Linked DNA regions of Homo sapiens: region 1 is linked to region 2. The links come from fine-mapping of genetic effects on gene expression. A gene starts in region 2. The other region holds a variant in brackets. All regions are shown on one strand. Distances are from middle to middle.

Region 1 (5,371 bases), 79 kb before region 2:
ATTTTTGTATTTTTTTTAGTAGAGATGGGGTTTCACCATGTTGGCCAGGCCGGTCTCAAACTCCTGGGCCTCAGATGATCCACCTGCCTTGGCCTCCCAAAGTGCTGAGATTACAGGCGTGAGCCAACGCACCCAGCCTTTAGGAGCCAGCTTTTTAATTTTTTAAGAAGGGGCCGACTTAACTTTCCTCCAGGACAGTTCCGCTGTTCTAGGGCTGTAGTAGGGCCACGTGCATTCCCTCTTCCTGGAAAGAGCACTCTGGGGTCCAATGCTGATGGTCAATGGCCCCATCGTCAACCTTCCTCGGCTTCCGATGCAAGAGAGCTGATGTGTCAGTGTTTGAGAACCAAGCTGTAAAGCCTTTTAAACATTCAGGTGATCACAGCTGAGACGCTGGGGAAATCCAAGCCCCCGAGCTCGTTTACCCCGCACACGTGAGAGCTGCCTGCAGAGCTCCGCCAGCACGTGGGAATCCACAGGCCAAAGACAATAGTCTAGACAAATTTTTATTTTATAGATAAAAGAGCCCGCACACTGAAGTCCGAGTTGGAACAAATCCGTGATGGTGTTCAACAAAATTAGAAGGTTTTGTTTTTTAAGATGCAAAAGCATTAATTCTACAGGCACCTAGAGATGAACCGTTTGGATTTGGGCTTCATTAGGAATTGGGCCTAGTATCCTGGCCGGCTATGTTGCATTTAGGGGGCCAATACTTTTCCATTTATTCCAAAAACGCTTAGGCTGATGCAGGTAAATCAATAGGAAGCTTCCAGCCACGTTGACATGTAAAATCAATAGGAATTATGACAGTTTTCAGCTTATATGATTGCACTAGTCAAGGATTTTGATTCATTCAAAATGAAAAATGAATCTGGGGTTTACCACAGAGAAGAGTCGAAAAAATGAGGACAGCAGCTGTGAGGCTGGGGAACCCCCATGTGCTAAACACCAATTCTAGGCCAGGCCCTGGGAGGCACTTCATGAAATTCACTTGATTGAAACCTCCCTACTCCTGAATCATCCCACCAGGGCAGGGAGGGATCCCGGGTGCAGCCTTCTCCTCTCTTTCTTCATCCCTCCCGTCCCCAGCAAGTGCATAGAGAAGGCTGGTCTTTTACCCATTTAAATCTAAAACATCAGGAAAAACATTTATTCCAAATAGTGAACAATTCATAGCCTGAAGATTTTTTTTAGAATATGCTTGATAACACACCCCAGAAAAGTCAACAACTTAGTAACTTACCAAAAACTATTTAAAATTCACACACCTGATTTTCAGAGAAGTCTTTCATCGGTCTCATTTATTGCAATATTTTCTAGCTTTGCATCCAGTACAACACAATGAAGTATTACAGTGATTTTTATCATTGCATCAGCATATACAAATACAGATCAAATGCAAATAAAGTGTGCTTACAGTGGTGATCCAAACATAAAATTGCAAAGGGAATTCTCTTTGAAAGTGTAATTATTTTTCTCCAATGTACCAGGTATATATTTTTCTCTATGCCAGGTATACATATTTGTCTTCATCACATGTGACAAACATTTGATGACTTGTCACTAAGTAGGATTCATTTCCATAGGGCAACTTTGAAATGTGTGGTCCAAATACAGCATTCCAGCACATGACCTCAGCATCACTGGGTTATAGTCATGTACACAAAGATAAACCAACTCGTATATGCGTGAGTGCAGCCCATATACAAATCTCACTTTCAGAAGCCAGAAGGCAGGTGTTAATATGCCAGCCTTGCCAGGGCTCACATTGAACTTGACACAGATCTGAGAGTGTGACTTTCTGGAAAGCATGCTCTGTTTCAGGGTGCAGTGATGTGGAAGTTTAAGGTACATCAAAATTCGGGATCCAAAATTGCATCCTCTGAAAACTCCGCCTGCAGGGTGTGCTGCTGCAGAGGGCTGCCTGGATGCCAACTGCATGAGGGATACATCCCCCCATTCTCGCAGCCAAAGTTCCTCCTGGGTGCAAAGGAGAAACCGTCTGAACCTTTGCAGGCCCATGAGCTTATACTTAGTTCAGAGCAGTTAAAATTCACTCAAAAATACCCTCATTGCATAAAGAATGAATATAGCCTCTTTAGGTTACTAGTGAACAAGCGCAGAGGAGTTAGTTAAGGCAGGACTTTTTTTTTTTTTTTTTTTTTTTTGACATGGAGTCTTACTCTGTCACCCAGGCTGGAGTGCAGTAGTGCAAGCTCGGCTCACTGCAACCTCAGGCAGGACTATTTTTAATTATTTTTAATACCTGCAAAAGGGAATCTGCACATGCACATCCGTGTTTCTACAGAAATCTGCGATCGATGGCAGATCTGTTTGCCTTTGTGTGTCCACATGAACCATTTGGCAAAGGCATCCAATGCTAACGGGGCCCACCAACTACAACGGAGGCAACAACTCTGTGGATTTTCTTTCACAGAAAGAGTAAAATTTCATTCAACCGTTCCATTTTTTGCCTCCTGTGATTCTAACAATGAAATTTAAATAGGAAAATGTTTCAATCGTTGGAGTAAAACACTCTTTAAAAAAATAATGCTTCGAAAAGTAAAGCAAAATCTTTTACCAAAATAATTCTTTCACTTTTCAAATTGTTCTGTCCACGAGCCAGTGTAATAAACAAGTGAAAGAATCACATTCTGTAGGCTTAAAGAATGCCAAATTATTACTTTTTCGCTTGCCCTTAATTTGAGTGGAAAAAGCTAAGGAAAATAAATGACTCAGAAATTCCAAAAGAAGGTCAGTCTATGAGAAAGAGAGAATAAGGCCCTTTCGATAGTCTAACACATACATCTTTTTAATATATTAATGACAGTGGTATAGAAAGAATATGAATAAATGCCTATCACAGTAACCTAATCAGAGTAAAACAATACATAATATCTAAAAGAATATAGTTGAACTTCTTGAAACTATTTTCTTAAAACCAACCAGTTTCTTTGGAGAGCTCCCAACAGAAGTCAGTATCATTATCATTT[G/A]GCATAAGTGTGCTCAAGTCCACACTGTCAGCACCACCTCGCTGGATGGAAGGAAGCCGGCAGTGTCAAACTCATTCAAAATACTGCCTTAGTAATATTTACTGTCATTTTAATCTAAGGCGTTGCAAAGTTACCATGAGCTAGATAAAGCGCATTCTTAAATGTCTGCCATAGATATATTAAGGCATAAATATTCCAGCCTTGAGCCACAAAAACTGGGGGGAGATATGCCAATGAAATAGACTATCTTTAACCAAAGGAATTAAAGAAAAATTTATCACCTAAAAATGAGACTAGTCAGCAAATACTGTAAGGGGCCCATCCACAAGGCCAAGTCTGAGGCCAGGCCTGGACCCGGTGGCGTCCAGATTTCTATCAGAGACCTCAGATCCAGGTCACATGAGCCTTCACAGCCCTCCCCACTGTGTTCAGAAGGTGGTGGCACTAACATTGCTATAATGGAAATGTGCCCCCTACTTTGCCAAAAACCGTGCACATCTGGCATTCCTCGATTGACCCTGTCCTAGGCGGGGACAGCCCTCAGACAGCCGCCTTCTGCCTAGGTTTCACAGCCCCAAACTGCACGTGAACCAGTAGCTACTTGCTGGAGCAGGCCGGAAAGGCAGCGTCGTAACTGGCATTAAGCCACAACTGAGGAATGCTTTTCACGGTACAAATGCACCCAACTCCTAGCCTAGAAAGTGCTCCCTTCCTATCTTGCTTAGAAATGTCAGCCCCGGGGTGGGGCAGGGGAGAAATGCTTCTCAATTCTCTCTGCTGTCAGGCCAATGATGACGCGCCAGGCTCCCAGGTGGAGCTGTGCACTCCGGGGAGACCTATCCTTTAATGGGTGACAACCAGGCTCTGCACTGCTGGCAAGAGGCTGCTTGGGACATTTTACGCTGAGGCAGAATGAATGTCCTGGTTTTCAAAAGGTGGCAGTGGCTCTCTCCAAAAGGTGAAGTTACTGAAGGTATCCGAACAGGGAAAGTCTGAAGAATGGCTTCTTTTCAGCAACGGGAAAACGTGGTCGACTACTTCACAGAGTCTCACATACCTGGAAGGAAAGGGACATTGTCACTGGCACTGAGCGATACCAGCTATGCACCCAGGGCTGCACGTAGAAGTCAAGAGAGATCTACAACCTCAAGGAGCAGACCGCCTACTTATCGACACGACTCAAGTCATTCTAGAATAATTTGTTATCGATTAATTGAAAATGAGAGATGAAAATGAAGAGTATGCAAACAAGGCATCAGAGAAGGCTCTGGGGAAGAGGTGGGTGGGACCTGACTTCACTTGAAGGACAGGTAAAGGAGATACAGCCAAGCAAAAGACGGCAGGAGGAAGTCACCATGGCCATGGGATAGCGCCTGCTGCAGGGGTCACATATGGGACATCGGGGGAAGAATCACAGACAAGGCACATCTTTGGAGCACCTGACAGAGATTGCTTCATTGCATAGTGAAAAGGAGCTGGGTCCTGGGGTTAAAGAGACATTAATTTGATGTTCAGCTCTGCCATTTACTAGCTGCGTGATCGTGGGCAAATGGCGTAACCTCTCTAAGCCAATTTCCTCCACTGTAAAGGGAGGAAAATAAAAACTATGCCACAGTTTTAAGGATAATTTAAATAAAATAACATATGCAACATTAAAATAATGTATACTGGGTGCTCAAATGTATCTAAATGACAAATTATCAACACGTCTTAGAGAAAAAAGCCCTGGTTGGCATGACGGTCAAGAGACCCGGGCTCTCCTGCTTGCTGTAACCTTGGACAATTGTCTTGCCCTCTTGGAGCCCTTCGTCTTTATAGTCTGTGGAGCTGAATTAGAGCAGGGCTTCCCAATGCTTCCTACAACGTTCTCTTGCTCTCTTTTATTTGCATGCCCAAAAATATGTTGCATGTTAGTTTCTGTGGCTTATACTATGAAAAGAAAGTTGCTATTGCTATATTGAATATGCATGTTCAGACCTCCAGGCACCTCCAAACTGAGATTCTGGCACACCCAGCCCACTGCCAGCCATCCCCAGATTCCTCCTTGACAGTCACTGATCACTGTCTAGTTCCAAATTGCTAAGAACCTAAAGGAACTTCCAAAATCCAGACTCCAGAAGTGTGCATGTTCTGAGGTATAAAATAATGTACTAAATGAAGCCGAGTGTGTATATTTAATAAAGGACCTCCAAAGGACTTATGAGAAACAGTGTGCTTGCACAAAATGGGAAAGTGACGTCTCCTAATACAAAACCAAGAGTTATGTCTTTCCTTGGGATTCAAACAAACAGACAGATTTTTAAAATACCTCCCGGCTTTAAGGCTTATTTGTCTGAGGTTTGTGGCTGCGGCAGCAGGGCCCCTCCCTGCAGGCTTGA
Region 2 (5,371 bases):
GCAGAACAGCCTGTGGGCCAGACACTGCTGAGGTTTTAAGACTCCTGGGCCACATACCTCATTGTGAAAAGTGTCAGCCTGGGTCTGGGTCAGCCCAGACCCAGAGCTTTCTACAGGCAGAAACTCACTACTCAACATATCCCTGGCTGCACAGACCCCACCCCAACCCCAGCTGCTAAGGGCTTGTTGGGGTGAATTACAGGTAGGGAGACAGACAGGGGAAAGCTGTGGAAAGAGGAAGAGGAAGGGAACCCACAGGAAGGGAGGTCAGGGCACTTGCTTCGGACCCCAGCAGCCCCAGGGCCCAGTGTGGCCTCCTAGGGGGCACAGATTCCCTTCAGGCGCTGGTGCATCCTCTGATCAAGGAGCAGGGCCAGTGTGGGTGTGTCCCCTCGACACACAGGCATGGGCCCCTCTCTCTCTCCAGACCCTCCCTCACAGCTCAGAAAGCGAACATTTCAGAAACAGCCATCCGATAGGCACCTGGGCCTCTTCTGAATGAAGAACCTGTGACGTCACTGAACGGCTTTGCTTGGGTTTTGTCCCAACTCTTTTTTCCCCACACACCCCGTTCCAGTTTTAAATGAGTGGGCTTATTATACAATACATTGGTCCAGGGTTCAATAAAGTGTCAAAATTGTGACTTTGCCCTTCTCAAGGAACAAGCCCCAAAGCTGCTAGTGGGTGATTCCAGGGACTTCCTCCTCAGGACCCCTCAAAAGCTCCAAGATCCCACGCCCGGGCTACCAGTGAGGAAGTGCAAGTGCAAACAGGTCGAACCACCAGCCTCGGTGTCCTGGCGGGACCTAACACCTGGATGTCTCTCAAAATGCTCCAAAAGCTGCCGACATCCGTGCAACAGCCCCCTCCCACCCTAAGGAAAAAGCTGCCTGTACCCCTCGACTACCCCCATTGGCAGGCTTGCCCAAATCAATTAACCTCATTTAGGTACCTTTTAGGCCTTGAACCCAGTACACAGATGGTCCGGAAAAGCCAACCGGAAGAGAGGTGGCAGGCAGGGGGAGGGGGTGTCCCACAGGGATGATTTACAGAGCAGAGGCCGGCGTCAGCCAGGACTGTCCCAACCCCACAAAGAGCCCCTCCTCGCTGGCACCCTGTGGCACTTTAAAATCATAACAACCACAATGATTCGTGGACCCCATATTATGTTCCAGGGGCTCTTTTTTATCTCAATTAATTTTTGCAACAATCCTGTGAATGGGTATGATTATCCCTTCATTTTACAGATGGGAAAACTGAGGCTCAGAGGATTGAAGTCTTCTGCCCAAGTTCTACATCTGTGAGTGGTCAGAACAACAACTGCAAAGCCCAGTGCTCTGTGCCGGCCTCGGCGCATCTCAGACCACGGTGGCCTCAGGACCTTCTTCTGAAATATCTTTTCATCTCCTGACCCTCCCCTGCCGTCTGTTCTGGGCCCTTTGTGCAGCTGACCACGCAAAGAGCAGGAGAGCAGGACCCACAGACTTCCTTCTGGCTGGGCCAGGCCAATTGTCCCCACCTAATCCAGGGCAGGCTCCTTCTCAGTCACTTCCAAGGTCCCCCCTACAACCAGGAATCCCTGCGGTCTCTCACCTGAACCCTCGCGTTCTCTCCCACACCACAAGACTCAGCAGGTCCGCCCCTTGTCCCCCTGTGCTTTTCTAAAAGAAAGGAACTGCTGATAAGCGAGACCTGGGTGGGTGAAAGAACTCGCTCAGGGTCCCACAGAGCTCAGGCAGAGCCCAGACCTCCCGACCCGAGTCCAGGGCTATATCCAGGCCTGGCTCCACAGGACCACAGGGCCCCACATGCAAATAGGAATAATAAGCGCCAAAACACACAACCCATGCACAAAAACACTCAATAACAAATGCTGGCAAACGTGAAGTGCTATCAAAGTATATAATCATAAATCCAACTGTTACACCTTTCAACAAGAATCTGGGAGCAAGAAAAGTGTTCATGTGTGGATGTGCTTATTTCTCAAATACTATACATTCCTCAACTGCTTACTTTCATTAATAAGACCCAAATTACGGAACAAAGGATAAACAGTCAATCTCACAATCACTACCCCTAGACCACCATACCACAACACCCCCAATTAAAAAAACGGCTACAAGCTTTGATTTCCCAAAACACTTCTATCCTGTGGGAAACTGCCGGGTTCTAAAACATCTCCAAATTAATACTGCCAGTTGTCTTAGTTGGTTTCCTGCTTGCTGATCAAAAACAGGGTTGACATCTGCTTTCTCCAGCAACTACTGACCACACAAATTACCTACTCTAGCTCCACAGCACTTAAGTTACTCCCAAAACGTTACTTCTCATCCTGCATTTTCCTGGCCTTGCCCATAATAAAATTACGTGCAGGAGCAGCTGACGGAGCTCACTAGGCCTAGCACCTCCTAGGCTGCAAGAAAGGTGCAGAGGCCTCGCAGGGGAGAGCTGTAATATGAGAACCGGGATTCCAACCTGGGCTCAGCCTGCCCTGCCGCCCGGCAACTGTATGACCTTGGGCACAGAGGTCAACCTCCCTGAGCCTCAGTTTCCTCAACTGCAGCGCTGGAATCCTAACTCCGGGGGAAAGAAAGGCTCTCATCCCAGTCCCCGGCGCAAAGCTGGGGATGATCGCGCAGAGCCAGGACGCACCCGCGCTGGCCGGCTGGAGCTAGTCCCCGCGGTTCTGGGACTGCGCGGCAGCCCCCAGTGGCCCCTACGCCGCTCGAGATCAGCCAAGCCGGGCCCACACCGGGCCTCGCGGCGCGTCAGGAAAGCCAGGCCCGAGGGATGCTCGCGAGGCCCTCCCGGCCTCCGGGGCCTGTTTCCCCGCCTCCCTCCCCCGAACCACTTCCCGTAGAGGGCCCCGGGGACGTAGCCCGGCCGTCGGTCCTCGGGCCCCGGGGCCGAGCCCCCGCCTCGCCACGCGTCCTCAGCGCCCCGGCGCCGCGCCCCGCCCCGCCTAACCCGAGGCTGCGGCCCCTGCTCCACAGCGGGAGGCTGGAGGCGGCGGCTACTCACCGAGCGGCGCCGCGCGTGGCCGCCTTTGTATTGCAAACACCCAGCCCGCCGCCGGCTGTCAGCGCAGCTCGCCTTCGGGGGCGGGGCAGGGGCGGGGGCAGAGGGCAGGGGCGGGGCAAGCGGGGCGGTGCGAGGGGGACTCGGGACGCGCTGGTGGCCCGGCTGCTTTCAGGGCCTGCTGGCCGGCCCTGCCCGCTCACCCCTGGCCGCCTATCTTAGCGTTCCTGGGGGTGGGGCCCCTTAGGCCGCCTTTCTGATTTTCCTTTCCAGAGCCAAACTCGTGTGTTTCTTCAACACTCTGACTTGACCTATGCCGATGACTGGGGGAGTGAGGACGGAGGGGTGCAGAGAAAAGGCAGCCAGGTAAAAGTCCAGGTAAACCACCCAGGGCCTGGCCGCGATCACGTCGGTCCTATGGGTCCCGCTTATCACCAGTGGCGGGATCTGAGCCCGTCCTTGACTTTACTGACCCTCGCCCTTCGTTTCTTCCACCTTAAAGGCGCAATCGCGTTGACCTATCGCCATCTCTTCTTAGCTTCTCCACGCCGGGCCACCCCTGTCCTTCATCCTGATGGTGACAGCCTCCACTCCCGCCTCTGCCAAGCGGTGGTCCAGGTGCGGAACGGTGGCTCTGAACAGGAGGGACAGGCAGCTCCCTGCGCCTCTCCAGCCGGGAGGCAGGCAGCGGATAAACAATGAGCCACATAACGTCTGGTGGTGAAATGATTTCCATCAATGGGAGGGTGTCATATTTGAACTGAAACTCTAAATGACAAGAAACACCTATGACTACAAAGATGGGGAGGAGGCAGGGCTTTCTGGAGAGCAGAAATGGCAGGTGCAAAGGTCCTGGGGCCGGTGCTGTGGGCTGGAGGGAAGGCAGGGGCCAAATATTCAGGTCTTGTAGGCCAAGGCAAGGAGTTTAGGTATTATTTAAATGTTATTCCAAACCAATTCTTTTTGAGACAGGGTCCCACTCTGTCACCCAAGCTACAGTGCAGTGGCACAATCTCGGTTCACTGCAGCCTTCACCTTCTGGCCTCAGGCAATCCTCCTGCCTCAGCCTCTCAAGTAGCTGGGACCACAGGTGCATGCCACCACGCCCAGCTAATTTTTCAAACTATTTGTAGAGACCAGGTCTCCCTATGTTGCCCAGGCTGGTCTCAAACTGCTGGGCTCAAGCAGTCTTCCCACCTTGGCTTCCCAAAGTGCTGAGATTACAGGTGTGAACCACCACGCCTGGTCCAAAAAGAATTTTAAACCTGGGAATTATATGATCTAATTTACTTCTTTAAAAAGTCACCCCTCCACTCCATGGAAAATGGACTGCAGGAGTAGAAGCCAGCAGACAGGTGGCACTGCAGGAAACCGGGGGACATGATGGTGGCTCAGATTACAGGGGCTACTCAGCAAGAAGCGGAAGGACTTCAGAGAGATTTGGAGGCAAAACCCACAGGCTTACTGATGAATGGAACCGGTGGAGGTGTGTGATGCGATACTCAAAGGCAAGTCTCAGTGTGGAGATGGAACCGCTGCTCTGCTGAGATGCAGAGGGCCAGGGAGGAGGCCAGCTTAGAAACAGCATCGAATGCGGCAGCTTAGTGAATTGGATAAGCCAGCAAGCTTGAGATAGATGTTTGGGGACAGCTGCTTGGAGAGCTTTGTCCAGGGGCGCGGCTCCCGTCCATCTGGTCAAGTGTGGACACGCTCCCGCTGGGCTTGGGGCAGCTCCTATCTAGGCAGCCTGTCCCATGCTGACATTGCAGACGTGGGAGCTACACAAAGAGAATCTTGCAGTTTGTAGGTGAGCTACCTCCACAGGGGTTTTCTCAGAGACCAGAGTTTCAAGTGCATCACGGCTGCCCAAAACTGCTGAGGTTGCAAGGCCCCAGAAGGAAGCCCTCCTGCACCCTCCCCTCCCACCTCCAGGGAGGAGCTGGCCTGGGAAGAAGTCTACTCTATGTGGAAAGGCTTTCCAGGAAGCCAGTCCAACTTCAGGCCACTTAAGTTTATTTTTTGTGTAAAATAAGTCCATTATTCAAATGTGGAGATGGGAGGTCTGAAAATATAGGACAATTCAACTCAAAGCCCTCATTCTGAAAATGATGAGCTGGGGGGCCCAGCACGGCTAGGGTCAGCTCTGATGAGCAGGGTCTGGCTGGATTCAGAGCAAATTAGGTCCCGCTGCTGCCCAGCCTACCACCTCGGGGAAGGCCAAGGGTTGGGGGGAGCCTTTTGTATAAACAAGCAATGAGAAGAAAACACTCACTAGATCACAGTGCACTCCCAGGCGATAAACGAAACCGGACTTTCCAAAGCCCTGGCGCTTTTGATCAGGCACTGGCTGGAG

What was found. PIP is the estimated chance that this variant, and not a neighbour inherited with it, causes the effect.
Region 1: its variant is fine-mapped to the expression of LPIN1 in whole blood (INTERVAL, PIP above 0.99).

Annotation. Positions count from the first base shown.
Region 1 is chr2:11,823,311-11,828,681 of GRCh38, reverse strand. LPIN1 (lipin 1) reads right to left here. Exons shown (of 21, transcript NM_001349206.2): 21 at 1,273-4,050. The coding sequence ends at 3,891. Among named protein-coding and RNA genes, the nearest start is that of MIR4262, 11 kb to the left of the region's middle. RefSeq lists an enhancer at 889-998. The variant G/A (reference allele first, on the strand shown) is at 2,994.
Region 2 is chr2:11,744,322-11,749,692 of GRCh38, reverse strand. It overlaps LPIN1 (lipin 1), which reads right to left and starts at 3,061. Exons shown (of 21, transcript NM_001349206.2): 1 at 3,022-3,061. LOC124907735 (a long non-coding RNA gene) reads left to right here and starts at 4,234. Exons shown (of 2, transcript XR_007086220.1): 1 at 4,234-5,371. RefSeq lists enhancers at 36-85, 106-365, 1,138-1,809, 4,321-4,894 and a silencer at 2,813-3,382.